Homo sapiens: one gene and its partners. The protein of the gene in region 3 purifies or fractionates together with the protein of the main gene of each other region. This does not show direct contact. Each region holds a gene or a part of one and is shown on either strand. Other genes may lie near its edges. The genes, in order: IPO5, FRYL, ZUP1, FNBP1, TIMP3, KRT4 and POLE2.

Region 1 (3,537 bases), on a different chromosome or scaffold from region 3:
TACACAATGAAAGCTCCTGAATCATGAAAGAACAGATTTCATAATTATACTCTGCTGCCTTAGTGGAATTTAGAAAAAATTTTTTGTAATGTTTTACAAAAAATTATATTGTACCACTTTTGGATTCATTGAGAAGTGAATAATATAGCTATAATTTATCTTTAAAATGTTTGTATTCATCCAAATATAATAAATACATAGAAATAATCAGCCCAAATGTTGTCTGGCATACACTGTAAGGGTTACAGCTGTGTGGGGAAAAAAGGGTTTAAGTCTAGGGCAGGATGTTGTTAGAATTAACCCCTGCTCCTCAGCACCACCATTCAGAAGTTCCAAGTGCTGGAAATAAATATTCATGCTTCCTCCCAAGTGTGATGTGCATACATTGTGGATCATTCACTTTCTTCTTCTAATAGTGGTACTCATACTTTTAGGGCCGAGAAAGAAAATCTGCTTAGGAATAGCAAACATGGCAGGTTTTGGCTGTTAATCTTTTGTGGCAAAGAAGGTTAAGAGAAGCAAAGTGATTTCGTTTTTTTTTTTTTATTTTTATTTGAGATGGAGTCTCACCCAGTTGCCCAGGCTGGAGTGCAATGGCACAATCTCGGCTCACTGCAACCTCTGCCTCCCAGGTTCAAGTGATTCTCCTGCCTCGGCCTCTGGAGTAGCTATGATTACAGGTGCCTGCCACCACACCTGGCTACTTTTTGTATTTTTAGTAGAGATGTGGTTTCACCATGTTGGCCAGGCTGGTCTCCAACTCCTGACCTCAGGTGATCCGCCTGCCTTGGCCTCCCAAAGTGCTGGGATTACAGGCGTGAGCCACCGCGCCCGACCTGCAAAGTGATTTCTGTGCAGCAGAGAAAACTGACCCAACAATCCTCCTAGGCAGAATGAAGCAGTTATTAAAACATTTAGCTAGCTCCTTAGCCTTTCACGTTGCTTAAACAGGCACTCACTCAAAAGATTAGATCATAAAAATATAATGCTTGCAAGACTGTAAGTAAGCACCCCCCTTATTTATTATCAGACCAGGTGCACCAAGACCATTTATTTGCTTATGTCTTTACTGATGGTTCTGTCAAACTACAACTCCAGAGTTATAAGGTTGCCTCTCATTACAGAAGTGTCAATTAGATTTAAGACAATTTTACTTTTCTTTAAAGATACAGCATTTAAAAAATACTCCAAATTGAGTTATGCCAAAGTTTCTAACACTTGTGCGTGTAACTTGTTACAAAATTCCCAGAAAACGTAAGAGCCACACACATTTTTCCCCTCCAGAAATAGCTTGCATTTATAAACAATATATATCACTTGCTGACATGCAAGACCCCTAAATTTGGTACAAAAGCCAAGAAAAAACTCCATGGATTTTCATCTTGCATAGACAGAATGAGGTATTAAAAATGCTTCTGCAGGTCCTTTCAAAGAATTGTTAGTTCATGGTACATCTCACAGTTAGTTCTGAGCTCTGGGTTTCAGAATCATGTCACACTAACAGCATTTACTACCAACCTTCCCTATTAACTTGATTCAACTCCAATTACCTCTTTGCTTTTCTGCTTTTATCAAGGAGGATGCTGCCAGTCTGCATCTAACAGAGCGCTTCTTTCAGAGCTCTTAGAACCCTGCTGTAAGTACATCTCAGATACTAACGGCATCTGACAATACCACTAGTGTTTAAACTGGAAGGTAGGAGGTTCTTGCTCCCAAAGTGCTTAGCATAGTGCCCAGCAAACACTAGGTTCTCCCAAAAAACATCTTCTGACCACACTGTCATCTGAAATTCTGCAGGTGTGCCATGATTTTAACATGTTTCTTTTCTGCAAGTGTAGTAATAAAGTGTAGTAATAATTTAAATTAAAAAAAGCCTACATTGCTCTAGCTGATTGGCATCAGTACATGAATCGGCTTTGCAGATGCTACATAAGAAAGCAGAAAGGGGTTGTCTTGACACACTTTTTACTCCAATTCCCATTTTTTTCTCCCAAGGAATACAGGCTATAAAGCTCCAAATATTACCACACATTACAAGAGCCCACAGGTATTCATCCACTGAACACAAGGACTGCGCAGGTGGAGTCATTTAATATGCTGCTTTGCTAGATTCGGAAGCCTCCGGGCAATGGTGTTGTGCTGCAAACGTAAAATATATTTGAAGGGCATCTGCTAACAAGGAAACCATCTGTATGTAATCCATTCTATTTTCTATTCCATTTCAGATTTAGTTTTAATAAAGTAATACAAATCATTTAAAGAAAAAACCTTTAATTTAAAATTCTGATCTATGCATAAAATTCATTTTTATATCACGGTTAAATTTAGTACAAACTATAAAAATGTTAACACTGAAGTTTTCAACAGAAGTCTATTAAGATGCCTTAGAAAAATTAAACAACAGCAAGTCATTTACTGCTATGAGGTTAATACATAAAGAAACATTCACACATTTTACTGAAATTTTCAGTAAATAACTTTAGCCATAACACTTATAATTAAAAGTTCAAAAGTTGTGTGTGGCTCTACAGCAATTATAATTTGCAATGAAAACACTAAGCCAAATCTTTTTGAGCTGATCAGAACAATCTTAGCTACAAAATTGGCTGAAATTTGCAAACCTTAAAAAGAACACCAATTGTGAATGGAATAGGTATCATAACTTAGCTTAAAGTGGAAGATGGTAAAAACTCGATGCTTAAGTCTGAATTGCACAAGGAAAATATTAGGGGAAAAAACACTCAGCTATTACTGATAGCTATTACTTTAAAAAAATATTAGATCATTCTTATATTAAAAACATGAAATGAATCCAAGCCAGACAGTACTGAGTTTTTACACAAGCCTCTTTTGTATTCAATGTTGTTTATTGAGGAGTGAATGAGAGACTACTGCCAGACATGCCAATGACACTTCACATTCAAGGGCTGGAAGCTGGAAAGCTTCCCGACTGAGTCACTGTATAAGCCTTCTGGGAAAAAGAACCAAAGTGACATCAAATATGCCATCTTCATGCTTGTTGTCTGTCATCAGTTTTTTTCAACTTTTGGGTCTACTGGTTTGCTGGGTAGGAGGCTTCTTTCTACCCTACAGAAAGACTCACACTCCCAATTCACAATGAACACTGAATGCAGAGCAATTTGTGTGAACACACATCTACGCTGAGTAACTGTTCTTAAAGCTGTTTTTCCTTAAATTTCCTTATGTCTAACGAGAAAAATTAATTTGATTTCCCTTTCCCCTTCAGGTGGGCGGGTTATACCAATAGAAAAATAGTCTTCAGTGCTAGCTACCGCAGGGCTTCCAGGAACTCCTTCAGTGGTCTGGTAGAAATCCATGGAAACTCCATTCTGCAACACAGCGCTGCTCTTCCTGCTTGTGGCTCTCCAGAAGAATGGCCTACACACAACACTACCGATCTCTTTTGCTCAAAAACAAAACAAAGAAACCTAAAGGAAAGGGTAAGCGTTTATTTGGAGTTAGTTTTCTGGTGGGTGACATTAAGGCCCTTCACGCAGAGTTCAGGAGCTCCTGAAT
Region 2 (4,476 bases), on a different chromosome or scaffold from region 3:
GAGGCTGAGGAGCAGAGAAGTGTAGGTTGGAGGAAAATGCTGTTGCAGAAGGCCATCCTAATGAATTTGTTTGCATCTTGCTTGCTGCAGGTATATTCATTTTTATTATATTAATAGACTTAGTTACATATAAATAAACACAAAAAGCAAATATCAACTGAAAGGTTTGGTTGGGTAGTCAACTAATTTTGTTCTTTTCTAGGGCAATTCAAGAAGGTAACATTTGAAAGGTTTCTAAATGATGCACACTGTAATCATTCATTCTTTGTTAAAATACAACACAAACCAACAGCTACAATGCTTTTTATTTTTAACAAAAAGGATGTAAGGAGGGTAAGAAAAACAGAGGACAGTAAGATAGGATGTAAAGTGTGATGTATCTCTGGACACCATCCCTCTCTGCCTGCCCCACACCCAAAAGTTTTAAATAATTTAAAGGATACCAATTACAGTACCAGAACACCATCAAAATAATTGTCTTTATCAGGGTCAAAAAATACAGTGATTATGAATGAGCTGTGACCAGTTACGAAATTTTACTGGAAATGTTTAACTGTGGTCAGCAGTCCAATGGTGTGCACAGTGCCTTCAATTAATGCACTTGAGCATACGTAATTACATTTCTGGCAGGGTCCACACCCCCCAAGAAAAGGTAAAGCTAAGCATTTCATTTCTACATTCTAAACTCTGGAATCACAGAGCCCAGTTTAAAAGAAAAGTCACAGTGGATAAGAGATGTATATAAAAAATACAAGGTGTTTCTTTCAAATCAGGAGTTGTGGGACTACATTCTTTTTTTTTTTTTTTCTTTCTTTTCTTACAAAATGCGATTTTAGAAAAGGATAGAGACTCCAGTTCATGTTATACTACAGACTTAGACAGTGAATAAGTATATTGCATGTTTTGGTAGTCAGTCTTCAGGCTTCCTTTCATTTCCCCTAGCCCCAGGTTTCTTTAGGGTAAAGCATGTGAGTCCTGAATAAAGATACAAAAATGCATTTGCAGCTCTTTTCTTGAATTCTGCAGACTTCAAAGCCTGCAAGTCATATATTCCATCATCAATGACCACAATTTTTCTTTAGCTTTGTACACCTATTCTTGTATAACAACAGTGCATGGCACAAATGTACAAGAAAATAACTGGTTTTAGTCTCTACAGTTTCTATATGGAGTAAAATAAGTTAAAACTTTTCTAATGAGAATAGCTGACAGGCAGCATACATCTTTATTTTACATTTTAAAGTCTCTGCAGGCATCTACTTTGGTTAGTTATCAACAATCATAACATAAGCACTGATCAGAGAACTGAGCAGCATTCCAATAACGTTAACAGATATATTATTTCTTTTTGAAATACTGGGAAAGCCCAGTTTTAAAATATTATTAAAATGTTCTAACATTTACATACTATGAAGAGTTAGATCTAATAAAATAACATTTCTTCAAAAATAATCTTGCAGTGCTCTTTTAGGCATGCTCTGAGACGTTATCACCAAACATCCATACCTTGAAAATATGACTATCACATATCCATACATCCCAACTCACACACACATAATTCCTTATACAGACCAAAAAACAAAAAAACCCAAACCCTTATCCCACATACTGAAAAATCAATGGTTTTTGCAAACGAGTCTTGATGCGTATAGCTGACTGCATGTTCATGTGGATGGATGATTAAGCATCAATTGCAGGTTAGGTTTTCAACTGCTAGAAATCCAAGCAGCTTTGCAGGTCTTCAGCTAAAATGAAACAGCCTTGATTTCAGCCTCATTTCACCTGCTTTTGGTTGTTTCAGTATTGGAGGCCATTATTGCAAACATTCTTGGAATTCTTTTCTTTCCCCAGAAAGTAATGTATTTGTAGGCATCACTTTTAGCCCTTTTCTTTTCACGTAGGTTAAGTAATTAAAAAATTCCTTCTTCACGCAGTTATTGTGGGAGATATTGGCAGCTGTTAAAATATCAGATGTTTTTTTCTTTCAGATCTTTGTTTTTGATGATACAGTTTGACATTAGTTACACTAAAAAGTAGATGCTGCCAGAAAGTTATCAGTGAATGCAAGGGTCCATAAAAGGTGCTTGGTTAATATTCTTCATCATCTTCAGTTTAGTTTCTTTCCTAAAGGCCTGAAGTGTCTCAGAATCCAGTGCTCACCATATTTCCCATTGGTTTGGCCTGTGCTAGAAGTTGGTATGATTGCACCATGCGTAGAGACTCTCTTATTTCCAGATTAAGTTCCATCAGTTTGTAGTTGGCTTCTGACATGTCCAGGTTAGAGCCTATAACTGCAAAGCTTCCTGTCTGGCCCAGCGTCTGATGATGGAAATATATATGTAACAGTGTCTGTACAGGGTCATCTTCACAACTGCCAAAGATATCACTGGGCCAGAGAGATCTGAAAATACACAATAGTTTTTCAGTTCTGAGACTTAGGCAATAGTTAAGACTAACTCAATTTAAGTTAAATACCTGTAACAACAACATTTCCTTGTGAATAACATGATCTGTTTTAATATTTGAGCAAATATTACTCAAAGTACCACCTGAATTCACTTTCAAAGTACCATCTGAAAGTGAAAAGAAATCTAAAATTGGTATCATTTCAGTGGCAACTGTTAAAAATACTCATGTTTTTCTTTCACAAAGACATGATATGGAAACAGCAAATTGAAAATGAAAACCTAGTATTACTAAACTTCCTGTCTAATTTAAAGGCATCACCTTTAAATCCCGTCACGTTTTACCTGAAAGCTTTGACTTGTGCTACAGCTGATATAAATTCTTTATTTTTCAAAGTTTCAATTAAAGAATGAATGGCAGTTTCTATAGTAGTTTGTGCAGCTTTGGAAATGTCAATTTCTTCGTTTTCGGAAGCGGACTCAGCTTCTTTGAGGATACTTTCCAGTTGGGCAAGTTCCTCTGACATGTTGATGACCTAAAACAAATACATCTTTAAGGATCTATTCGTATGTTTGGTAACAAAAACATTTAGTTGGCTACAAGAATATACCTGATGGCAGTAGCATTGTTGCTCTTAAAGATTATTTTAAAATGTTTGTCTTGGAAGAAAGGGCAGTTAATATTTCAAGTACTCCATTCTGTAGGAGCAAATAAATTCCACCAAATAGTAGTCTTGAAATTAAATGTTCTTGATAAAGCAACAAGTTGTAATAAATGTCTATATTGGTTTTAATATTACTACATTTTGGATAGTAAAAGTACATTTACTGTTATGGGGGATCATGAAAACTATATAACAGTAAAGTCTTTAGATTTTAAAAGATTATTTACCCCAGGGTATTTTTATATAAAAAATAAATACATGTATATTTCTTTTTACAGATTTAATGACTAAGAAATTAAATCATTTCCCCAGTGATAGTTTTATTACCAGCAGATGACAAGGGGGGGAAAAGACTAAAGTTAGCATCTTTGAGGCTATGTATTGATTTTCAACATTCAAAGTGTTTTTTAACATGTTTTTTCTTGTGTGCACTAATAAAACTGTAACAATGTGGGCTGGGCACGGTGGCTTATGCCTGTAATCCCAGCACTTTGGCAGGCCAAGGCAGTGGGTCACCTGAGGTCAGGAGTTTGAGACCAGCCTGGCCAACATGGTGAAACCCCGTCTCTACTAAAAATACAAAAAGGTTAGCTGGGTGTGGTGGTGCACACTGGTAGTCCCAGCTGCTTGGGAGGCTGAGGCAGGAGAACTGCTTGAACCCAGGAGGTGGAAGTTGCAGTGAGTTGAGATCATGCCATTGCACCGCAGCCTGGGCAAAAGAAGGAGACTCTGCCTCAAAAAAAAAAAAAAAAAAAAAAAGCTATAGAAATACGAACAACATGTTGAGGGAGGGGGGTTGATGATACAGTTTTATGTCTTTATTGAACTGATGTGCTTTGTTTGACTATTTTGATTTTCTGAGACAGGGTCTTGCTCTGTCACCTATGCTGGAGTGCAGTGCTGCAATCACAGCTCACTACAGCTTCTAACTCCTGGGCTCAAGTCATCATCCCAGCTCAGACTCTCGAGTAACTAGGACTATAGGTATGTGCCACCATCCCTGGCTTTTACTTGACTTTTGATTATAGATGATCTGTGTCTACTATGGAAACCTTTAAGGTCTTGAACCTTTTACAACTGCTGGATATCTGCTGTCTTATTTACTCATAGGTCCTGACATAGCACATCATTAAAAAACAAATTATTCCTTAACTAAAAGAAAAAAGACTCACTCTAAGTGACTTTTGACTTAAGCTATTTTAACAAGTAATAGATTTTATTTTAAAATTTTTTTAGAATCAGTTACTGATGCCTAATACAACTGAATATTTACCTCTGCTTCATTTTTTATCGTATTTACTTGGTTGATAAGTTTACAGTAGGCCTGGAACAGAAGCAGCAATTGAAAATGCAATTTGTATAATCTTCGGCAGAGCTCCAATTCCTAGAAATAAATAACATTACAT
Region 3 (4,476 bases):
CAATCTATACATCTATCTCCTATTTGCCACCGGACCACCGTGGTATTCTTCCTTCAAGAGGAAGTCACCCTTGAATAAACATTTTTTTAACCAGAAACACTGTTTATACTACTCAACAACTGTTTTTAAAAGGTCGGGTATAACTAAAAGCATTTGATAGCTTTATCATCACTTTAAACTACAGCACAGATATCCTGTTCTTGTTTCTCTTGGCAATAAAATCTCTAAAACATCCGAATTGCTAACCTCAGCCTCAGCAAATTTAATGCTGGTAACTTACAGTTGGTTACTGGGTTTTAAGTGCTCAAATAAACTTCTGGATAAACCGTTTAAAAAGAATGTTTTGGGGTTAGCAGTTTGCATATTTACATTTAGAATACTAATTAAACAGTACCCTACAGGATATAACTCATAGAGAGAGCAACAGAAAGACATGTAAATAACTACTAAACACACTCAGGATATATTAATAAAAAAGCTTTCTAAATTATTTAAGGTACCAAGAAAGAAGCTGGACAAAAATTACGGCTGGGTGCAGTGGCTCACGCCTGTGATCCCAGTACTTTGAGAGGCCAAGGCGGGTGGATCGCTTGAGCCTAGGAGTTCAAGACCAGCCTGGACAACATGGCGAAACCCCATCTCTACTAAAAATGCAGAAAAAAAAAAATTAGCCAGGCATGGTGGCACATGCCTGTAATCCCAGCTACTCAGGAGGCAAAGGCACAAGAATCACTTAAGCCTGGGAGGCAGGGGTTGCAGTGAGCCAAGATCGCGCCACTGCACTCTGGTCTGGGTGACAGACTGGAGACAGACTCTGTCTCAAAAAAAAAAAAAGAAAAAGAAAAAGAAAAAAATTACTTTAAAACTCAAAACATGATAGAGTATAAATAATCTCAAAGTGTGAACACATTGGCAAAAAGAAAAAGGAGAAAAGCAGGAATAAATTTAGAGGGCATTAAAATAGTTCTTTAAATAATTCAAGAAAGTTATTATACATACACACAACATTAGTTTTTCTATGTTAATGAAAGAAATATTTTTATTTCTGAATCTAATCAATCAATGTGGTAAAAAGAATGTGATACACTGGTTAAATAACTTAGAAACAAACATAAAAGAAAATATAAAGCCATAAAGCTTAACGCAAACATTCCATTAAACACGATCACAGACATCTATCTCTATTTCCTCTTAAAAACCCAATGACATAATACTGAAGGAAAAAATGATTTAAACACCCAAGGACAAAGAGAATGGGAATAGACAGGAAAAGAGCTCACATCTTCAGAAAATGGAAAGCACCACAGAGAACATATAAAAGTAAATAAAAGAAAATGGAGACCGTATGTTTCAAAATCAGAGAGAGGCTGAAAGCTTAGAAGCATAAGGTTTGAGAACAGTGAGGCTAAAAATATGAGATTAATTAAAAGTTTGCTTAGAAGGCAAATCACACCTTAACTCTCCCCTCCACTAATGTAGGAACTCTAGGTAAGAGAGTGAAAAACTCTTCTCTGGATAACTTCTGGGAAAAGATCTCTCTATATAACGATATTTGAGAGTTCCCCAACCAAATAGTAACCTTCCGCCTTCCACCTAAGACTTTTAAATAAGTCTGCTAATCTGCAAGCTCTGTGCAGTCCTACAGCACTCTAATCAGCTTTTTAATGTTTCATTCTTCACTCTCTGAATGGACAACTAAGGATTTCCAAAATTAAAAGAAAGCCTTCAAAATAGAAAAGACTAAAACAAACAGATATGAAAAAATACTAATATCGAACAAACAAAATGCAGGCAATAGAAAGAAAACATTGGAAGAAATTTTGCAACCATAAAGAAAATGATGCTATGAAATTACCCCTTAACATAATGGGTAAAATAAAAATTTCAATACAGTAATTGGGGGATAAAGTTGAGTAAATCTAGAAAATAGAGAAAAAGCAAAGATTTTTAAAAAAGAGACATGATAAACTTAGAAGGTAAAGAAGCAGGCCGGGCGCCGTGGCTCAAGCCTGTAATCCTAGCACTTCGGGAAGCCGAGGCGGGTGGATCACCTGTGGTCAAGAGTTGAGACCAGCCTGGCCAACATGGTGAAACCTCGTCTCCACTAAAAATACAAAAATTAGCCAGGCGTGGTAGCGGAAGCCTGTAATCCCAGCTACTAGGGAGGCTGAGGCAGGGGAATCGCTTGAACCCAGGAGGCGGAGCTTGCAGTGAGCCAAGATCACGCCACTGCACTCCAGCCTGGGCAACACAGCAAAAACTCCGTCTCAAAAAAAAAAAAAAAAAAAAAAAGATTAGTTCAGTGGCCAACTATCAATAGTTCCACAAAGAAAACAGAGACATTATAATTATCAAACAACAATAGTTAACCTCTGAAGTCATGCTGTATGCCAGTCACAGTTCTAAGTACTTTATTATCCCATTTAATTGTCTAACTACTATTAATACCTTCTTTTATCAATAGTAGACCTAAGTACAGACAAGTTCATTCATTCAGCTATTAAGTAGGAAAGCTATGAATCAAGGTTAGGCAGTCTCGCTCCAAAGTTCAAGCTCTTACCTACTATCCTAGATGGAACTAAGATCTTAGACAACTCACAATTCCAGATTCAAAGAGAAAAACAAATGCCCAACACAATGAATCAAAGCCCCACACCCCATGGTGAAATTTCATAATATCGTGAAATTATGATGGGCTAAGAGAAGGTTGGAATAACTTCCACAGAAAATAAATAGGTTATACATTTTAAAAATGAGACTACACACACACACACACACACAAAACAGTGAAAAAATGCTACATGACAATAGCTGTAGATCTAGAAGGCAAAAAGTCCAGATTGGAGCAAAGAGGACAGAATGCTCAAGAAGGATGTGTCCGAGAATAAGGAGAGCCTCAGATTACATGACAGGTAGAGTGCAAAAACTTGAGGCCATGATGTCGTCACATATTATAGTAAAAGAGAAAAGGAAACACAATTATTAACTCAAGAAAAATTATAAATGATTTTAGAAAAAATCAGCAACAAGCAATATTTACACAATTGTATAATAAAATCTGACTTTATAAAATGATGTAAACTCTGATTTTAATAAAAACCAAGATTTAATCATATCAGAAGGATTGAAGGTAAACAGGTATAAGATATTAAAACAGACTATCTGAAACTCATAAACCAAGAAACAGCTATGAAAGCATACCATTTAAAAACAATGGAAGTGACAGTTGCCTCTGAGAGACAGAACTTGAGGGTAGAGAAGAGCACAAGATAGTGAATAGGCTGCTGATTTTCATTGCTACTTAATTTAGTGCTACTTAATTTTATTTTTAAACTATCTCTTTGCTAAAAAATAAAATTTTACAAAACAAAGCTCCCCGATAAGGAAATAACATTTATTTAGGTTTTAAGGTACATACTTTACCCTTAGGGAGGTCAGGAGTATATATACTTCACATGCTCCAATCCAGGCCTTTGTTCCCTGTAACCTGTTATTAAGTTGAGAGGCCCCCTGAGGATCAAAACCTTCCTTCCATGCATCTTCAATCATAGATTGAATTTTTGGAATGCAAGGAATCAACATACCTAAAATTACACAAGCAAACATGTTACATGACTGTTAATAAAGTACTGAATAATATTTAGCAGTGTATTATGTACTCGGGGAACTTTACGGTTTTTAAGACAGTTATTCCTGACATCTTCTATCATTTTCTCTTCCTCTAACCAGAATTCAGGTTTCTTATATAAATATCCACTAACTGTTAAAGCTATTAATTGTGTATGCTATATCATTCTATATCATATGTATTTTATCAGATGACAAGTTCAGAGTACTAGATTTCACATACCTTTTAAGCAATCGTTGTAAGCATCATTTTGTAATAATGATGAAAGTAGCATTTGGAAATTTCTGTAACCACAACCCCAACCTTTGTCGCCTAAAGATGAATGAAAGTGATCCACCACTGAAGAAAGCCACACCCGTCTCACATCTGTGGCAGCATTCTGATAATACCTATGAAGTGCTTCAATAATTCCTAAAGTAGAAAAGAGATTCAGAAGCAGTCATTATCACCTTTATATTGCTATCTCATACATTTTTAATATCAACCTCTCCTTCACGCACCATACCTAAATCCTGTTAATTCCATCTTCTTCACCTTCTTCTTGCTATAACCTTAGTTTGTGTCCTTGCTTGTTACTACAGTCCAAGTTTCCTAACACTAGCATATTATTTATTACAGTTCATTGAAATTTTCTGCATCTGCAGGGCCCAGCACATAAAGTACAACTGTTGAATGAATGTTCTTCTTGTGTCTCCATTTTATTGTATAGACTACTGGAGATCACTCAGTCTTAATCAATTTGCTCCCAATCAAAAAATATTAATAGCTCCCTATTACCAATAGTTTTAATTTTTTTGTAATTTAAGATTTTATTTTGCAGATTTTGCAATTTTCGAAGCATGAGAATA
Region 4 (4,476 bases), on a different chromosome or scaffold from region 3:
TAGAAAAAACTTAAATCTTAAGAAGGCCCAAGTATACTGCTAAAAATTAGTATGATTAGTGTTTTGGAGTGGATTTTATTTTTCTTCAAGGAGGAAAAGATAAACATGCTATTAATATGACCTCCTGAAATCCAGATTTCCTGTCCAAAGCAACGATTTCCAGGCATTTTCCAAATATTAGGTTTATTGTATTGTTAACATGTACACCAAATTTTAAATCAGAAGGCTAGGACAGAAAATAGCTCATTTTTCATGAATCCTGCTTACCGCAGGAGAGTTCTACAGTTTGTTCCCAGGGACCAGAGTTTTTTTCATTAACCTTCCCCATGATTATAATAATTTGTGTTTACCTATCACCTTTCATCCAACAACCTCAAAGTACTTTACGAACAATCTCTCACCTTTATGCCTTCTTGTCAAGAGAAAGGCAAGCATCATACCATACTTTATAGATTGGGAAAGCGAGGAACAGAGATGCAAGGACTTGCCCGATACTAATAAATATTAGATTAGGTAAGCAAGGCAACCCAGGCTGAGCCCTCCAGCACTGCCTCACTCAACTGGGAGCACCCACACCGTTTGTCCCCAGAGCCTGTCTGGTCTTTAAATGGATTTCAGGAACCCGTTCTCAATTTTGGCTGTGCAAATAGAAGTACAAGGGGAGGAGATTCCTTTACAGGTCCCAAGTTTTCTTCTGCTATAGATAATAGAGAAAGTGTTTCGTTTCTTGTTCCTGAAGACTCAAAACTTTAAAACCCTGAATGTCGGCCAGGCATGGTGGCTCACGCCTGTAATCCCAGCACTTTGGGAGGCCGAGGCCGGTGATCACTTGAGGTCAAAAGTTCAAGTCCAGCCTGGGCAACACAGGAAGACCCCCCCACCTCTACAAAAAAAACTTTTTTAAAAAAGTTAGCCAGGCCGGGCTGGGCACGGTGGCTCACGCCTGTAATCACAGAATTTTGGGAGGCCGAGGCGGGCGGATCACGAGGTCAGGAGAGTGAGACCAGCCTGGCTAACACAGTGACTAACATGGTAACCCCGCCTCTACTAAAAATACAAAAAAAAAAAAAAAAAAAATTAGCCAGTCATGGTGGCGGGTGCCTGTAGTCCCAGCTACTCGGGAGGCTGAGGCAGGAGAATGGCATGAACCTGGGAGGCAGAGCTTGCAGTGAGCAGAGATTGCGCCACCGCACTCCAGCCTGGGTGACAGAACAAGACTCTGTCTCAAAAAAAAAAAAAAAAGTTAGACAGGCCAGCTGCGGTGGCTCACACCTGTAATCCCAGCACTTTGGGAGGCCAAGGCAGGTAGATCACGAGGTCAGGAGATCGAGACCATCCTGGCTAACACTGTGAAACCCCGTCTCTACTAAAAATACAAAAAATTAGCCGGGCAAACGCCTGTACTCCCAGCTACTCGGGAGGTTGAAGCAGGAGGATCGCTTGAACTCGGGAGGCGGAGATTGCAGTGAGCTGAGATCACACCACTGCACTCCAGCCTGGGCGACAGAGCAAGACTCCATCTCAAAAAAAAAAAAAAAAACAAGTTGGTCAGGCGTGGTAGTGTACACCTGTGGTCCCAGCTAATCAGGAGGCTGAGGCGAAAGGCTCATTTGGGCCCAGGAGATTGAGGCTGCAGCGAGCCATGTTTGTGCCACTGCACTCCAGCCTGGTCAACAGAGTGAGACTCTGTATTCCTCCTTGTTCTTTCTCAATTTCCTTAAAAATAGTTTTCGCCAAGACATACTTCTGTTGGGCAAATTCAGAAACTTGATACTACTCCTACTAATTAATATCCACACAAATTTATTTAAATTAGAAAAGAGAAACAATAACTGGCTTTGAAAGGATTAGGAGATTACTAGACATCTATGAAGCATCTGCTTGAGTACGAGCTTCATTCATGACTGTTTCTGCTGGCTCTGCAGCATTTAGTGGTGTGAGTCATTGATTCTCAGTGATTCTCAATATGAATAACATCAACTGTTTTATAAAGCAAAATCTACTGCAGTGATGGGGAAATATGAGTGAGTGGTGGGGATAAAGGGAACTGTGCACTACTAACACAGAAGATCCAGTTTTTGGCCAAGTGGCTAATGCCTGTAATCCCAGCTCTTTGGGAGGCCAAGGTGGAAGGATCACTTGAGCCCAGGAGTTCAAGGCCAGCCTGGGCAGCATAGAAAGACCCCGTCTCTACAAAAAAAATACAAAAATTAGCAGAGTGTGGTGACATGTGCCTGTAATCCCAGCTACTTGGGAGGCTGAGGCAGGAGAATCACTTGAACCTAAGAGGCAGAGGTTGCAGTGAGTCGAGATCGTGCCACTGCACCCCAGCCTGGGCAACATGGAGAAGTGGCAAAAAATGACTCGCTGCCCAGCTGCAAGGACTGTGGCTAGCATGCAGCCTCCTTTAGGGTCCACCTCATCTTTTGAGTCGAGGGCATCTCTTCTTGTAGCACCCCCAGCCAATGACTAAGCAAGCTGGCAGCCAAGGCCATCCTCTTCTTGGGACGACCTCTGGCCAATGATAAAGGAAGGCAGAGATACAGAGGCCGAGCCATTTCTGCCAGAGGATTCTTGTGTCTGCTCTGGAGCTCCCCATTGGCCTGGTGGGGACTCTGTCAGGTCTGCATCGTGATCTGATGGCTTCCACTCTTTCCCCTTCACAGGTGTTACTCCCCAGTAAAACTGTACTAATGACTCCATCTAAGCCTCTTCTTCCAGGATATTGGCACAAATGGTAGTTACCTTGCTGGATTCTTGTAACAAATAAACAAGATGATGGATGTAAACACTTTGTCCAGCACCTGGGGCATAGTAGGCACTCAATAAATGGCAGTAATGATAACAATCATTCGAGACTTTAAGATAATAGAGAGGTCAGGCACGGTGGCTCATGCCTGTAATCCCAGCACTTTGGGAGGCCAAGGCGGGTGGATCACCTGAGGTCAGGAGTTTGAGACCAGCCTGGCCAACATGGTGAAATCCCATTTCTACTAAAAACACAAAATTAGCCAGGCGTGGTGGCACACGCCTGTAATCCCAGCTACTCGGGAGGCTGAGGCAGGAGAATCGCTTGAACCCGGGAGGTGGAGGTTGCAGTGAGCTGAGATCGTGCCATTGCACTCCAGCCTGGGCGACAAGAGCGAAACTCCATCTCAAAAAACAAACAAACAAAAACTTACATACCCCCAAATTACTCTCTAATATAATACACATATTTGGCCTCATCATTAAAAAAAAAAGTTTTTTTAACTAAACACATTACTAGGCTCAAGCTAGTATGAGTGTACAAGTAAAACAGGAAACAAATATTCCTTTATAAACACTAATTCCAGAAGACTTCACACCCACATTCTAAAATCTAATTAGATTAATTTCCCAGGGCATTCATGTATTCTTAGTAGCTTTCAATTTTTAAGTGTCAAAATAAAGCCTTATTTTTAAATGTGGGTGGTGTTGATGAAACAAGTATGAGTAATACTTGCAGGAAACATAATATTAGCTTTAGCTGCTTAGTGGGTGATACTTGAATAGTCCTTCAAAGAAGCACTTTCCATGTCTCACCAATGTAAAGCATGAGTTGTAATGTGTTCACATAGTAAGTATAGACACTTATAAAACTCTTTTATGTGCTTAAAGTACAGTTTTGCCTACCAAAATGGCAATTTACACAAATTTTCAGGATTCTGTCTAATGTACAAAGTGAGGGCAACAAAACTGATATCTAAATATCAACTGCAAAATCTCCAGGCCTCCCACGGTTTGTTTTCTTTTAATATCCACTAAACAGAAAAGACATGTGCAAAATTTGTTCTCATGGAGAAGTAAGGATGGCAAAACTAAGTTGATTTTGTTTCTCTTCTGAAGCAGTTCTGCCCTACCCACCATGGTTCAGGGAGTATTATCTCCCCTGTTGGTCTTGCCATGTTCATCCCAAACAGAAATCTCTGAAGGGTTAAGAAAAAGGAGCAGTAGGCCGGGCGCAGTGGCTCACGCCTGTAATCCCAACACTTTGGGAGGCCGAGGCAGGCGGATCACAAGGTCAGGAGATCGAGACCATCCTGGCTAACAAGGTGAAACCCCATCTCTACTAAAAATACAAAAAATTAGCCGGGCGCGGTGGCAGGCGCCTGTAGTCCCAGCTACTCGGGAGGCTGAGGCGGGAGAATGGTGTGAACCTGGGAGGCCGAGCTTGCAGTGAGCCGAAATCACGCCACTGCACTCCAGCCTGGGCAACCCAGCGAGACTCCATCTCAAAAAAAAAAAAAGAAAAAGGAGCAGTAGAGGCCAGGCATGGTGGCTCACACCTGTAATCCCAGCACTTTGGAAGGCAGAGGCAGGCAGATCACTTGAGGTCAGGAGTTTGAGACCAGCCTGGTCAACGTGGTGAAACCCCATCTCTAGTATGAAAAATACAAAAATTGGCAGGGCATGGTGGTGGGGGCCTGCAGCTACTCAGGAGGCTGAGGCATGAGA
Region 5 (4,476 bases), on a different chromosome or scaffold from region 3:
ATGCCACACTGCACCTCCTAGCCCTGGCAGTGGATAGGGGAGCGGTTGCTGACTCTTCAGCCAAGTTCATTGTCACCATTCCATTTCTAGGGCCCTCTCTTTGGCTACCCTAGTGACTTCTACCTCTGCTTATCAATGGGAGCTGTCTAAAGAGGGAAGGGCAGCACCAGATCCTTGACAAGTGTTGGGCTTGCCCTCAGAAGACATGGGTTCCAATCCCATTCCATGTATTGGCTATATGGCTAAGCCACAGAACCCCGCCATTCTCAATACTGACATCCACTAACTAGGAACTATGACCGACCCCCCAATCACCATCCTGCTTTCCTCGTTGCGAAGTTGTCATCAAATGAGATCAAATGGACTTAAGACTCTAAAATGTGAAGAGTTGTGAAAATAGAGTAGGAACTTTGTTGTTTCTTTCTCTGCCCTGTGGGAAGCACTGTGACAAAATGGAACACATTAGATTTGGAGGCGGGGGGATCAAACCACGATTTTGAATTGAAACTCAGCTCTCTCTATATGACCCTGGAAAACATCACATCACACCACAGAGCGCCATTTTCCTCACCGAAAGTGAAGTGAGAATATCAGCTCTGCTCTATAACAACACTACTACTAAAAGCTCATGCTTATTCTTATTGAGCTATTCTGTGCCAAGAATCAGTCTCTTGTATAGACTAAGGGCTACAACTTTTTAGACTTGGGAAGATTCTACCCATTTTGCGACCTCTCCACCTGAGTCTTTGGCTCCCCACTTTTGGGGCCCCCCTCAGTCTGCTTATCTTTGATTTTCTTCCTCTCCAGACATGCCTTCCCTGCTGCCCCCAAATTTTATTACCGTATAGTCAGTTCTGGGATCCTAACATAACCAAGCCTTACCTCCTAACCCAGTGCCCTTTCAACTGTCTCAGTGGTTCCCAGCCTTTTCAACACTAAGGAATATTTAGTGCTAAACATTCCATGAAGTATTTCACTTAATTGCCAATGAAGTTACCACGTGGTACATAATATATTTCCCCCCATTTTAGAGATGAGGAAACTGAGGCAAAGAACCTGCCCAAGCTTGGGAGTAGCAGAGCTCACTAGAGCTATCATGTTTCCAAATCGAAAAGGCAGGGAGCTTATTCATGATGATAAAGTCTAAGTCAAAAGGGAGCCCTTCCTAAATACATGAGATGCAAACACCTTAGTCAAACACCTCAAGTCACGAAACCAAGTCTTCATGAAATCTGACCCTGGTTGCGAAACTCACCATCCCCACATCCTAATCCAGGCATTGCAGGAGCTCTGAAGTTTCTGAATGAAACAGCTCTTCTCTGCAGGCAGCCAGGCGGCCCTGTGCCTGACACCCTCATGGGCAGAGGCAGAGGGGATAATTACCATGTAGTATTTAAGATCTCTAGTTCCGGAATGGCTCTTGGAGGCTTGGTCAGCTCAGGACTTCCCCTCTCCACTCCCCAGTACCCACCCCCCGCCCAATCATCTAGGGCTCTGTTTTTCCACTAACTGAACTTTACCTTGGGCTCTCTGAGGCCAGATCGTACAGCTTTCCTTCCCTTCCCCACCCCCACAAAAAGCCAGGTGGCTGCAGGCTTGGAAACACTTATAGTTTCTTGTCTCCAAGCCGTGAATGCCACCATTAGGTGATCGGATTTACATGAACATAAATCAGACTTGAGTGTTGGGTAGTGTGGACTGTCCCTTCTGTGACAGCAAAGCCATCCTAGCCACACAGATGGCCTCTAAATGGGTCAGGAAAGGTTCTCTGGGGCCCCTCTGAAGCTACAAACACTAATTTTTTAACAGCTGAACAAAAAGACCTCTTAGTTCCACTGCAGCCCACATAGACACCTGTGGGCCTCCTGTCAAACAGTATTTAGTAAGTCCCTTTAGCTAGAATCAATACTTTGTGTACCCCTGGATGCCAGACATGAACATAGGAAAATATCTGAACCCATGTCACCTCCTCTGAAAGGATAGGGACCTCAACTAGGACACATCAGTTACCTGCTGTCTATCCCAGGCATGGTGGCAGCACTGTGGGTAACAGGGAGAAGTGACAATGGCAGTAAATGCATGGGACCTGCCCACAGGGAGAAGAGATGCTAAGCTGGCATGAAACTAAAGATTCTCAGGAGGGGCAAAGGACAGCGATATACCAAAGAAGCCAGGAGCTATTTTAGGCATATCAGTAAGCCAACCCAAATCCGACAATGCAATCACCCAGGAACCCATGAGAAAACTTCCCAGGCTTATGAAAACACCAACCGTCCTTGCTTTCGGCTATAATTAATTAGTATATTAGCTGATTGTGTCAGAATAATGACTGGCTAGTATCAGCAGTTCTAGTTATATTTTAATTTGTTTTTTAATGGAAAGTTAATCAACACTCAACACATGAAATTGTGTCGGATAACTGTTCCAAACACAGAACTTATTGGAGGGAAAAATTAATTTTAAAAAATTCCATAGTGTTGAAAAGTCTGGGAACCACTGAGAGAGTTGAAAGGGCACTGGGTTAGGAGGTAAGGCTTGGTTATGTTAGGATCCCAGAACTGACTATACAGTAATAAAATTTGGGGGCAGCAGGGAAGGCATGTCTGGAGAGGAAGAAAACCAAAGATAAGCAGACTGACGGGGACCCCAACAGTGGGGAGCCAAAGACTCATGTGGAGAGGTCGCAAAATGGGTAGAATCTTCCCAAGTCTAAAAAGTTGTAGCCCTTGGTCTATATGAGAGACTGATTGGAAACACAGGTTTTGGAGATAGGCTAAGCAAGTATAGGTTGCAAGTGGTGTGAGCTTGGGCAAGCCATTTGGCTTCCCTAGCCTGAGACAGCTCATCAGGCAGCTGGGATGACTGATAGGCAAGTAAGGAGCTTGGTACAGTGCCTGGCACATAGTAAGGGCACCAAACTTACTATGAAAATTACAGTATTATGTTTGTGATCTCCTGCAGGGTTGGCATTTAGAAATCTCCACTTTCTTCTCTGGGAGGGTGCTAGGGTATCATGTCCACCAGAAGACAGGACTAGACTTATCAAGTAATGCAGAGAGCATAGTGGGTGCTTACCCTCTAAAGTGGGTTAGGTTTATCCCTCTGGGTGGCACGCAGCCCTAAGTTCTTTCTCCCAGCGCAGGAATGATCCCCTCTGGGAGTTTCCCATGCAGCTTTGGAGAATTTGGGTTTTACTAGAGATGGTGTTTTTCAGCATGCTTAAAATATGGGCAAGGTTTATGACTGTTCGTCTGTACCAATGCCAAGGAGTGATCAGGGAAAGGAACCAAAGGAGACCTAGAGAATGAGAAGTTAATGAGGACTGTTCAAAACCGAGGGGGTGTCATGGGCCAAGAGCCAGAGAGACAGAGTATGAACAGCTGGAGCAGGACAGACCAGTGATGAGACTATGAGGATGAGGTAGGCAGGGTCCACACTGGCCCTTGTAAAAGCCATTTGATGATACTTTATCCTAAGAGTCCACTGAAGAGCTTTCATCAGAACAGGAATTCTTTCCTAAACCAGGCCTTCTAGCTCCCATAATAATGAGACCCCAGCGTCCTTCTTGGCTGGGGTCCACCCAGCCTCCCTCTCGGCAGTCCATCCTCCTCCTTGTGACCATCCCACTGCTCTCACCCAAGTGCCATCCATAGGCAACAAGAAGGGAGACAGATGAGTGAGTGCCCTTGCTGCCACCATGAGCCTGGCCAGCGGACAGCTTTGAGTCAGAAAGCAAAACCCTGTGTATGTGTGTTCAAAACACAGCCACATATACCTTTGAACCTGAGTCCATGTAAGTCCTCAAAGTCAAACAACTTGGTGTAATAAATGGTCCACTGCTTATTCTGAAAGCAAAATAAATACATAAAGCTATCTTCAACCGAATTACTCCAGCATGCAACAAGTCAAGGGTCACAGCTTTCCTGGCATTGCAGCCTTCCTCTCCCTATGAAAATACTCCCATTAACTTGATCTTCGTGGCCCTAATTTTGCTCCCTTTCAAAGAGACAAAAAGAAGGAAAAAAAACACTCAGTAAGTCAATAAAAATTATAAATTGTTTTTCTATTTGAGAGAAGCATGGGAGTCTCTTAAGCACAGGGCTCTAACATTCCTCCATCCCCTCATGTTGCATATATGAAAAGAACTGTGTTAACACAGCCACTGTGGAGGCCAAATTGGCAGGAACTATTAAAATTGAAAATGCATATTATATAATTATAATAATATAAGAGTATGTAGTAGTATATATAATATGATATGGTATAATGTGACCTATAGTATAGTTGTTAAATATATTTTAGAGCCAGGGTGAAGGGGCTTAAATACAGGCTGTATTCCTTGCTAGCAGTATAACCTTAAACGAGTTACCTCATTTTTCTAAGCCTCAGTTTCCTCAGCTGTAAAATGGAGATGACAATAGCACACCTCCCTCATAAAACTGAGAGAATTAAATGAGTTAATGTAAGTTAATGACT
Region 6 (3,510 bases), on a different chromosome or scaffold from region 3:
GGCTGGAGGAACTGGAGTCTGAATGAACTCTGCGGCAGTCAAGGGTGGGAGGCACAGTAGGGTGGCCAAGGCAGAGAGTGCATTCTGCATCTGCAGCAAACTGATTCGAGTCAGACTGCAGAGCAGGAGCTGGGAAATCTTTGGAAGAGGGGAGACTGTGCTGCTCCAGGTACTTGGAATTGGTCCAATATAGAAAAAGGGTGTCCCCAAATCTACCCAGACCCCCACCTCTGACTGTCCTCTCCCCGCTTCTGTAATTAGACAGCTCCCTCCACTCCTGCTCCAGAAGACCTGCTCCACCTCCAACATTCTTCGCCACTCAGGGACAGCACCACAGACATAACCCCAGGCACCCCTGAGGAGCTGGGGAAGTGAGCAGCTCATGAAAACTCTAGGAGAATGACACACATGCACACCTCCCTCCAACAACCGTGACCTTGTTGATTCTTGGAACAGGTTCCTGAAAGCCTTGTTGGGCCAGTGAGATTTAGCCCCATGCATGGAATTTCATGAAAATAGGGAGGCCTTGCTAGACACAGAGTATAAGCACTCTCATAAGCTCCATAACTTCTTGCTCTATATTCAGCAGAGACCCCTGGCCTGCTTCTCTCACACCTATCAAATGCCCCCCACCTGCAGACTTAAACCCCTTCCCTCCAGGTTTATTCCAGGATCAGCATTGAAATGGTGCTACCCCAGGGTGCCCTACAATGGACAATGTGTGTATAATTGTTGGATGCCCCTTCAATCTGTACAACTGCCCTGTAGGCAACCTTCAGCCTCTGTACACTGTACTTCTCCCCCAATAATTTGAGTAACTTAGAAGTAGAGACCTGAGAAACTAGTCGATGACCCAGATCTGTATAAACAGATCCTTCACACCCGCAAGCATACACCTTCACCAAAATTATCTAGTTATACAGGATTCTAGAGACCTCTCCCCAGGGAAAAAAGACCATTGCTCAGAATGAATGACAAAAGCATTTTATTGAAGATTCACCTGCAGATGGATAAGAGGGAATGAGAGGAGTAGAATGGGACACTAAGTGGTTCTCATCCTAAGCTTGCAGGGCCAAGTGCTGCCGGGTGTTGGAGAAGTAGTTTGGTTCTGATGTAGATGGATAATACAGGATCTAGTGGGAGATGGCATTGGACTGGGAAGGGACATATGTGACCCCAATAATTCTGGAGATGACACTCCTGGTCATTTTCTTCTCTGTCCATGGGAGGTGAGAGGTCAGCTGACATCCTTCCCATTCCAGGTGGGTCACCAGGCCCAAATCAAGAAGTAGCTACCAAACTCCAAGAGGCAGAGTCCCTGTCCCAGCACAGAAGATCATCCTGGGGCAGAGAGAGCCCATGGGATAGTGGAGGGGATACTAGTAAGATGAGCCCCAGAGACAGAGGATGGAGGTGAAGTGAAGGAAGCACAGAGACACCAGTGCTGGGCCCAGCTGGACACAGTGAGCTGCAGGGACCTCGTCTCCTCTATCGTCTCTTGTTCAGGGTGGTGGTAGAGATGATCTTGCTGCTGGAACTGCCAGAGACACTGCCACCAAACCCAAAGCCACTTCCAGAGCCGGAGCCAAAGCCACTACTCAGGCCAAACCCGGAGCCACTTCCTAATCCTCCGCTGATGCCTCCAGTGCTGGTGCTACCGCTGACCACAGCTGCAGAAAAGACACAAAAGACACAGTTATTCCAATGCTGCCAGCACCCCAGGGGTCTGGCAAGACCCGGGTGAATGAACAACTACAGCAGGCGTGGAAGGTACTTACAGATGCTCACGGCACTCTGGCATTCTCCAGACATTCTGTAGGGGAAAGAAAAGGCGGTGAGCCTCAGGGAGCACAGAATTTTGTTCAATAAGCATGCCTCACTCACCTCTCTTATCCTTGAGCAGCCTCTGAGTTTGAGGGCCCAGTGTGAACCTATTAGCTGAGCTGTCCTGGTTCGTAATGCACCGGCACAACACTGATGCTTGCAGCCCGGCAGAGGCATAAATAAGCTCATGGCCCTGGACCTCTCTGGCCCTCATGTTCACACCCTGCCTAACCCCTCACCTGTACTCCTCGCCCTCCAGCAGTTTGCGGTAGGTGGCGATCTCGATGTCCAAGGCCAGCTTCACACTCATGAGCTCCTGGTACTCACGCAGCATTCGTGCCAGCTCCTCCTTGGCCTGCTGCAGGGCAGCCTCCAGCTCTACGCGCTTGCTGTGGGCATCTTTAAGGGCATTCTCACCTCGCTGCTCTGCATCAGCCACGGATACCTGAAGAGTCTGGCACTATTGACAAAGGCATTAGATAGGTGGTCAGCAGTGCCCTGCCTTCAAGGCCTCTACACCTGTCCCCTCCCCTGGTCCAGCTTTCCTTGGGTTAGGATGTCAAGATTCTATCTGTTCTGCCCACTTTCCCTGAGACTTATGCATCTCATTCACTCCAGCCATAGCCCACCAATGCCTCCACCAGACTGATTAAATAAAAATGAGCAAAAACCCATGAAGAAGAGCCAAGAAACCTATGCACAGGAGCGTCATGGTGTGCCAACTAGGATATTGCTGAAAAAATCTGGGTATGCCTTGCACAAAGAGCTATGAATTCCCAGCAACAAGCTCAGGGTCTTCTGGCCTGATGCTTTATCTGCTTGTCCACTCTGGAGATGTCTGCCTGAGGCCCCTGGCCTTGTGCTCCATCTGGAAGGGAGTGACACCCACCTGCTTCTTGATGTTCTCGATCTCTGCCCGCAGCCTCTGGATCATCCTGTTGAGCTCTGCAATTTCACTCTTGGTGTTCTTCAGGTTGTCACCATGTTGGTCAACCGAGATCTGGAGCTGCTGGACCTAAGACTCAAGAAGACACAGAGAACCAGGTGTTAGGGGCATTTGGGTAGGGTCCATTCTCAAGTGAACTCAGTGAGAATTGCCACAGGTGGCAAGAATAGCACCAAATGTCAAGTAGTTTCAAATCAGACCAGGACCAACGATGCCTGGGAGAGTCTGTTCATATCTGACTTCTATTGGGCTTGAGCTAATGATCACCTGTTCACAGACATCAAAAGCAGAGCCCCAGAGCCAGCCCCATCTCCTGAGAGATCCATACCACCCACCTTGGTCTGGTACAGGGCTTCAGCCTCAGCCTTGCTCCTCTGGGCAATCTCCTCGTACTGGGCACGGACCTCGGCAATAATGCTGTCCAGGTCCAGGTTGCGGTTGTTGTCCATGGAAAGGACCACGGACGTGTCGCTGACATGGGTCTGCATCTGGGACAGCTCCTGCAGGGCAAATGTCTCACATCAGCCCCCCCAGGAAAGCCTTCACTGACCTGATACAGGCTCAAGTAGGAGCAGAGCTGGCATTCACAATGTGTAGGAAGGGGAGAGACAGGTAAAGTTCTAAGGAGAAATCAAGTGGTTGTGACAGTTCAGGATGGAAGAGCAATGCTTCTAGTCTTTACTGGTCCCCAGGAACCATAAGCCACTCTAATGCAGTGAGTGCCGGTGTGTTGGAATGGA
Region 7 (4,476 bases), on a different chromosome or scaffold from region 3:
CTGGAGGGGAGTTACTTGATTTGGTCAGTTGTTTTTTTGTTGGTTTTTTTTTTTTTTTTTTTTTTTTTTTTTTTTTGAGATAGAGTCTCACTCTGTTGCCCAGGCTGGAGTGCAGTGGCGCCATCTCTGCTCACTCAACCTGTACCTCTCAGGTTCAAGCAATTCTCCTGCCTTAGCCTCCTTCTCCTGAGTAGCTGGGATTACAGGCACACGCCACCACACCCGGGTAATTTTTGTATTTTTAATAAAGACGGGGTTTCACCATGTTGGTCAGGCTGGTCTCAAACTCCTGAGCTCGTGATCCACACACCTCGGCCTCCCAAAGTCCTGGGATTACAGGCATGAGCCACCGTGCCCTGCCTGGGCACTTGTTCTTAACCAGTGGTGGGAACTTTTTCAAAATACAGTTATCTGAGAAATCACATGTTAGGATGCCTGAAATTACAGGAAATAATATTTAAAATGCCTATTCTTTACAATTAGAAAGTCATTTGATGAGTCTGGGGCAAAATCCTAACTTAACATTTTTAACAAGGACCCCAGAGGATTCTGATGTGGGTGATCTATGTAGATCACCCTGTGAAAACTACTACCCACTAGGTGATTATTTTCTTCTTTCTCAAGACCTTTCCGTAACTCCAACCCCATACCATCACCAAACTCACACACAGCTCCCTCACTGTCAATTTAAGGGAAAGTACCTAAGAAGCAACCATACGGAGGGCAGGACTGACCTCTCAGAAGAGTGAGACCATCGTCAGGAGTTGGCCTGTAAGAGAACTAGCTCACCTCCACAGCTGGCCTGAGATTTCCCCCAGAAAACAGTTCTTGATCTATTTCAACACAAACGTACCATCATGTACCCACAATTCTGTGTCACACAGCATAACCGTGATAAGCTCAGCCAATAATATTTCTTTATGGGCCACTGTAGACATTTTCAAAAATCCCAACACACTGATAGAACATCTCATTTTCAGTAATTTAACACCTAGAGAAAGATCTTTCTTGCTGTGTCTGTGCACACACTTACCTATCTTCTACTGTCTTATTAGAAGGATAAAAAACTTTGAATGAAAATCCACTTCTTGGAAAAGAGCCCTTTGGGGGAGAAAAATGCCTGTAAGTGAATGCTCAGACTTTTTTTTAAAATAAATTTTTTTAAACACAATATGTATATTTTTTATTTTTTATTTTATTTATTTATTTTTTTTTTGAGACATGGTCTCACTCTCATCACCCAGGCTGGAGTGCAGTGGGGCAATCTCACTGCAACCTCCATTTCCGGGATTCAAGCGATCTTCCCATCTCAGCCTCCCAGGTAGCTGGGACCACAGGCATGGGCCACCACGCCTAGCTAATTTTTGTATTTTTTGTAAAGAGGGACAGGGTTTCACTGTGTTGCCCAGGCTAGTCTTGAACTCTTGGGCACAGGTGATCTGCTCACCTCGGCCTCTCAGAGTGCTGGGATTACAGGCATGAGCCACCGTGCCCAGCCGAATACTCAAGTTTTATAAAATAATTCCTGTTTTTTAAAAGTCCTTGGTTGTGACTTAAAATGACAAGATGTGACTATAAAGTAACACAACAGATTTTTACACGATCTTTTTACAGAGTTGTTACTATAAAATATCTCCACTTGAAGCAAAAGTCTTTTGAGTTGGCTAGACAGTCTTAATGCTAAAAGATGAGGTTGGAAATGCTTAGGAGGAGCTCTACTTAGTGTAAAAAATAAACAGACTGTGTAACGCCAAATATGCATGTGAGACAATCAGCAAGTTCAAGAAGTCTTTCCTGCCCCTCTCTCTAATGCAAAACTGATTTGCATTCCTATGTACCTGTTTGATTCCCTTCCTATGTGCCTGTAAAGCAACTGAGCAATAATCACACATACAATTGTTTGTCTACTATGAAACTCTCACGTGGCTGAGCAGAGGCCCTGTCTTTTCAGTCTTTGTGCCCCAAGCACCGAACCCAACACCTAGCCTATGGCAGGCATTCGTTAATGTGAATAAATATCAAGAAAGGATGAAGTAATGTCTAAGGCTAGTTTTGAGCTTGCCCAAAAGGTATAAATAAGGTAAAAAAGATATAATGATGGTGTAGGAGGTGGTGGTTTACTCACAGGGATGAAAAAGTAGAAAAATTCAGAAATAAGGTATATTCAAATAGAGCATTAACTAGGAGAATGCCCAAAGTTTAAGTAAGGAAATAGCATCACCATGAAAGACTATTTCAATGTGAATAAAAATCAGGTCATAAATTTCTAAGCAATAAAACCAAATCAGTTAACTGTGTTCATTCTTAAAGCAGAGGCTCTTAACCAGGGTTCCTTTGTCCCTCAGGGGGACATTTGGCCAGTGTCTGGAGACATTTCTGATTGTTACAGCTGGGGAATACTACTGGCATTTAGTGGACAGAGGCCAGGGATGCTGCTAAACAGCTTACAATGCACAGGATAGCCCCCACCACCAAAAATTACTTGGTCCAAAATGTCAAAAGTGCCAAGGCCGATAAGCCATGTCTTAGAAGAAGCTGGACAAACTGTGTGTTTGAGGAAAGCAAAGTAGAGACAGGCCCTTTCTATGTTGCCCATGCTGGTTGTGAACTCCTGGACTCAAGCCATCTTCCTGCCTCGGCCTCCCAAAGTGCTGGGATTACAGGCCCAGCATCATGCCAAAAATAAGGCATGATGTTTCTAGAAATTACTCAGATGAAACAAAAAATTAGTAAAGTCTAAAATTCACAAGAATCAAGGAAGCATGCATATTAAAAATCTCTAGTGGAGATAATATTTTGTTTGACATAACTGTGTTTATGTCATTGTTTATGCAGTATTTATTCTCCAAGTTCAAAAAGTCAATTATATTTCTTTCCCTTTTTTTTTTTTTTTTTTTTTTTTTTTGAGACGCAGTCTCGCTCAGCTGCCCAGGCTGGAGTGCAGTGGCGCGATCTTGGCTCACTACAAGCTCTGTCTCCCGGGTTCACGCCATTCTCCTACCTCAGCCTCCCGAGTAGCTGGGACTAGAGGCGCCCGCCACCTCGCCCAGCTAATTTTTTGTGTTTTTAGTAGAGACGGGGTTGCACCATGTTAGCCAGGATGGTCTCGATCTCCTGACCTCGTGATCTGCCCGCCTTGGCCTCCCAAAGTGCTGGGATTACAGGCGTGAGCCACCACACCCGGCCTATATTTCTTTTCTTTTTTTTTGAGATGGAGTCTCGCTCTGTCGCCCAGGCTGGAGTGCAATGGCGTGATCTCCGCTCACTGCAACCTCTGCCTCCCTGGTTCAAGCAATTCTCCTGCCTCAGCCTCCCAAGTAGGTGGGATTACAGGCGCGCACCACCACGCCCAGCTAATTATTGTAATTTTTAGTAGAGACGGGGTTTCACCATGTTGGTCAGGCTGGTCTTGAACTCCTGACCTCGTGATCCACCCACCTCGGCCTCCCAAAGTGCTGGGATTACAGGTGTGAGCCACCATACCTGGCCTAAAAGTCAATTATATTTCTGCAGAAATTCTGAAGCAACCTCAAGATTCTGAAGCAATTTCAAGGTTCTACATAAAATTAAGTAATAAAATATGTACCAATGAGGTTTCTATATTAATCAGGCTTAGATTTTTGGGACCTGTGCAATTTCCAAAAATCAAAATCATTCTCAAAGGACAAGTACCACCAATATGCAGGCTCTGAAGCAATTCCCAGAAAGGAATCCCAAGATAAGTTCTGAAGAGGAGAAAATTACTCTTTTGGATTTATGTTTTGGTATGCTTGTGGGTATGCTTGTTTTTTTGTTTTTTAAGTCATGTTACTTTATAGTCACTATACTGAAAGTTTAAGAACTTTCTGTGTATACCAACTTTCTGTGTATAGAAACTTAATTCAGTGTTTCACTAATAGCATATTTTTACTTCGACAATAATCTTATTAAATATATATTTTTAAATTAAAAAATGCACTCTAATCTTGATAAATAATGACTATATAAGATTAACTACATTCTTACAGGGTTTATGCAGAGGCATTCGGTATTTGTCGTAGTGAAAGGATCATATTTGTCTGCAATGACAAGTAGATCGGGCACAGGATACACTCTCAAAGCATAGTCATATGCCCAATACACTGGGCAGACATAAAGAGGTAGGGGAGTCAGATGTCCTTGGGATAAGATAGTCTTTACAAACTACAAAAGAGCACAAAACAAAGCAAACTTCAGTTCATTTGCAAAAGTGAAAATAGCTAAACAAATAATTTCAAATTAAATATTAATTACCAAAAGGAACCAGAAAATTTGAGAAACTAGGAAAGCTTTGACTCACAGAGCTTTGGGAGACACTAATTTAAAAGTGAAATAAACTATTCTGTATTTTAGGAAAAAAAATCTATGAGTTTTCATTTAATAACATATACATCATTATGCTGCCCAGGCTGGTCTCAAACTCCTGGCCTCAAGCAAGCCACCCAAAGTGCTGGGATT

The links.
Region 1: the proteins of ZUP1 (region 3) and IPO5 purify together in Homo sapiens (affinity purification with mass spectrometry, with the first as the bait; one large-scale study listed by BioGRID). This does not show direct contact.
Region 2: the proteins of ZUP1 (region 3) and FRYL purify together in Homo sapiens (affinity purification with mass spectrometry, with the first as the bait; one large-scale study listed by BioGRID). This does not show direct contact.
Region 4: the proteins of ZUP1 (region 3) and FNBP1 purify together in Homo sapiens (affinity purification with mass spectrometry, with the first as the bait; one large-scale study listed by BioGRID). This does not show direct contact.
Region 5: the proteins of ZUP1 (region 3) and TIMP3 purify together in Homo sapiens (affinity purification with mass spectrometry, with the first as the bait; one large-scale study listed by BioGRID). This does not show direct contact.
Region 6: the proteins of ZUP1 (region 3) and KRT4 purify together in Homo sapiens (affinity purification with mass spectrometry, with the first as the bait; one large-scale study listed by BioGRID). This does not show direct contact.
Region 7: the proteins of ZUP1 (region 3) and POLE2 purify together in Homo sapiens (affinity purification with mass spectrometry, with the first as the bait; one large-scale study listed by BioGRID). This does not show direct contact.

The regions. Positions count from the first base shown.
Region 1 is NC_000013.11:98,021,796-98,025,332, reverse strand, and holds the end of IPO5 (importin-5), read right to left. Parts: coding exon 3,511-3,537; 3' UTR 1,037-3,510; downstream 1-1,036. UniProt on the Homo sapiens protein: Functions in nuclear protein import as nuclear transport receptor. Serves as receptor for nuclear localization signals (NLS) in cargo substrates.
Region 2 is NC_000004.12:48,497,280-48,501,755, forward strand, and holds the end of FRYL (protein furry homolog-like), read right to left. Parts: intron 4,455-4,476; coding exon 4,344-4,454; intron 2,942-4,343; coding exon 2,751-2,941; intron 2,402-2,750; coding exon 2,143-2,401; 3' UTR 78-2,142; downstream 1-77. UniProt on the Homo sapiens protein: Plays a key role in maintaining the integrity of polarized cell extensions during morphogenesis, regulates the actin cytoskeleton and plays a key role in patterning sensory neuron dendritic fields by promoting avoidance between homologous dendrites as well as by limiting dendritic branching.
Region 3 is NC_000006.12:116,648,154-116,652,629, forward strand, and holds part of ZUP1 (zinc finger-containing ubiquitin peptidase 1), read right to left. Parts: intron 4,040-4,476; coding exon 3,851-4,039; intron 3,585-3,850; coding exon 3,419-3,584; intron 1-3,418. UniProt on the Homo sapiens protein: Deubiquitinase with endodeubiquitinase activity that specifically interacts with and cleaves 'Lys-63'-linked long polyubiquitin chains. Shows only weak activity against 'Lys-11' and 'Lys-48'-linked chains.
Region 4 is NC_000009.12:130,032,790-130,037,265, forward strand, and holds part of FNBP1 (formin-binding protein 1), read right to left. Parts: intron 1-4,476. UniProt on the Homo sapiens protein: May act as a link between RND2 signaling and regulation of the actin cytoskeleton. Required to coordinate membrane tubulation with reorganization of the actin cytoskeleton during the late stage of clathrin-mediated endocytosis.
Region 5 is NC_000022.11:32,807,525-32,812,000, reverse strand, and holds part of TIMP3 (metalloproteinase inhibitor 3 precursor), read right to left. Parts: intron 686-4,476; exon of another isoform or gene 1-685.
Region 6 is NC_000012.12:52,805,581-52,809,090, forward strand, and holds the end of KRT4 (keratin, type II cytoskeletal 4), read right to left. Parts: intron 3,271-3,510; coding exon 3,106-3,270; intron 2,840-3,105; coding exon 2,714-2,839; intron 2,285-2,713; coding exon 2,064-2,284; intron 1,814-2,063; coding exon 1,779-1,813; intron 1,671-1,778; coding exon 1,489-1,670; 3' UTR 969-1,488; downstream 1-968.
Region 7 is NC_000014.9:49,646,260-49,650,735, forward strand, and holds part of POLE2 (DNA polymerase epsilon subunit 2), read right to left. Parts: intron 4,183-4,476; coding exon 4,006-4,182; coding exon of another isoform or gene 3,994-4,005; exon of another isoform or gene 3,888-3,993; intron 1,102-3,887; coding exon 1,034-1,101; intron 834-1,033; exon of another isoform or gene 311-833; intron 1-310. UniProt on the Homo sapiens protein: Accessory component of the DNA polymerase epsilon complex. Participates in DNA repair and in chromosomal DNA replication.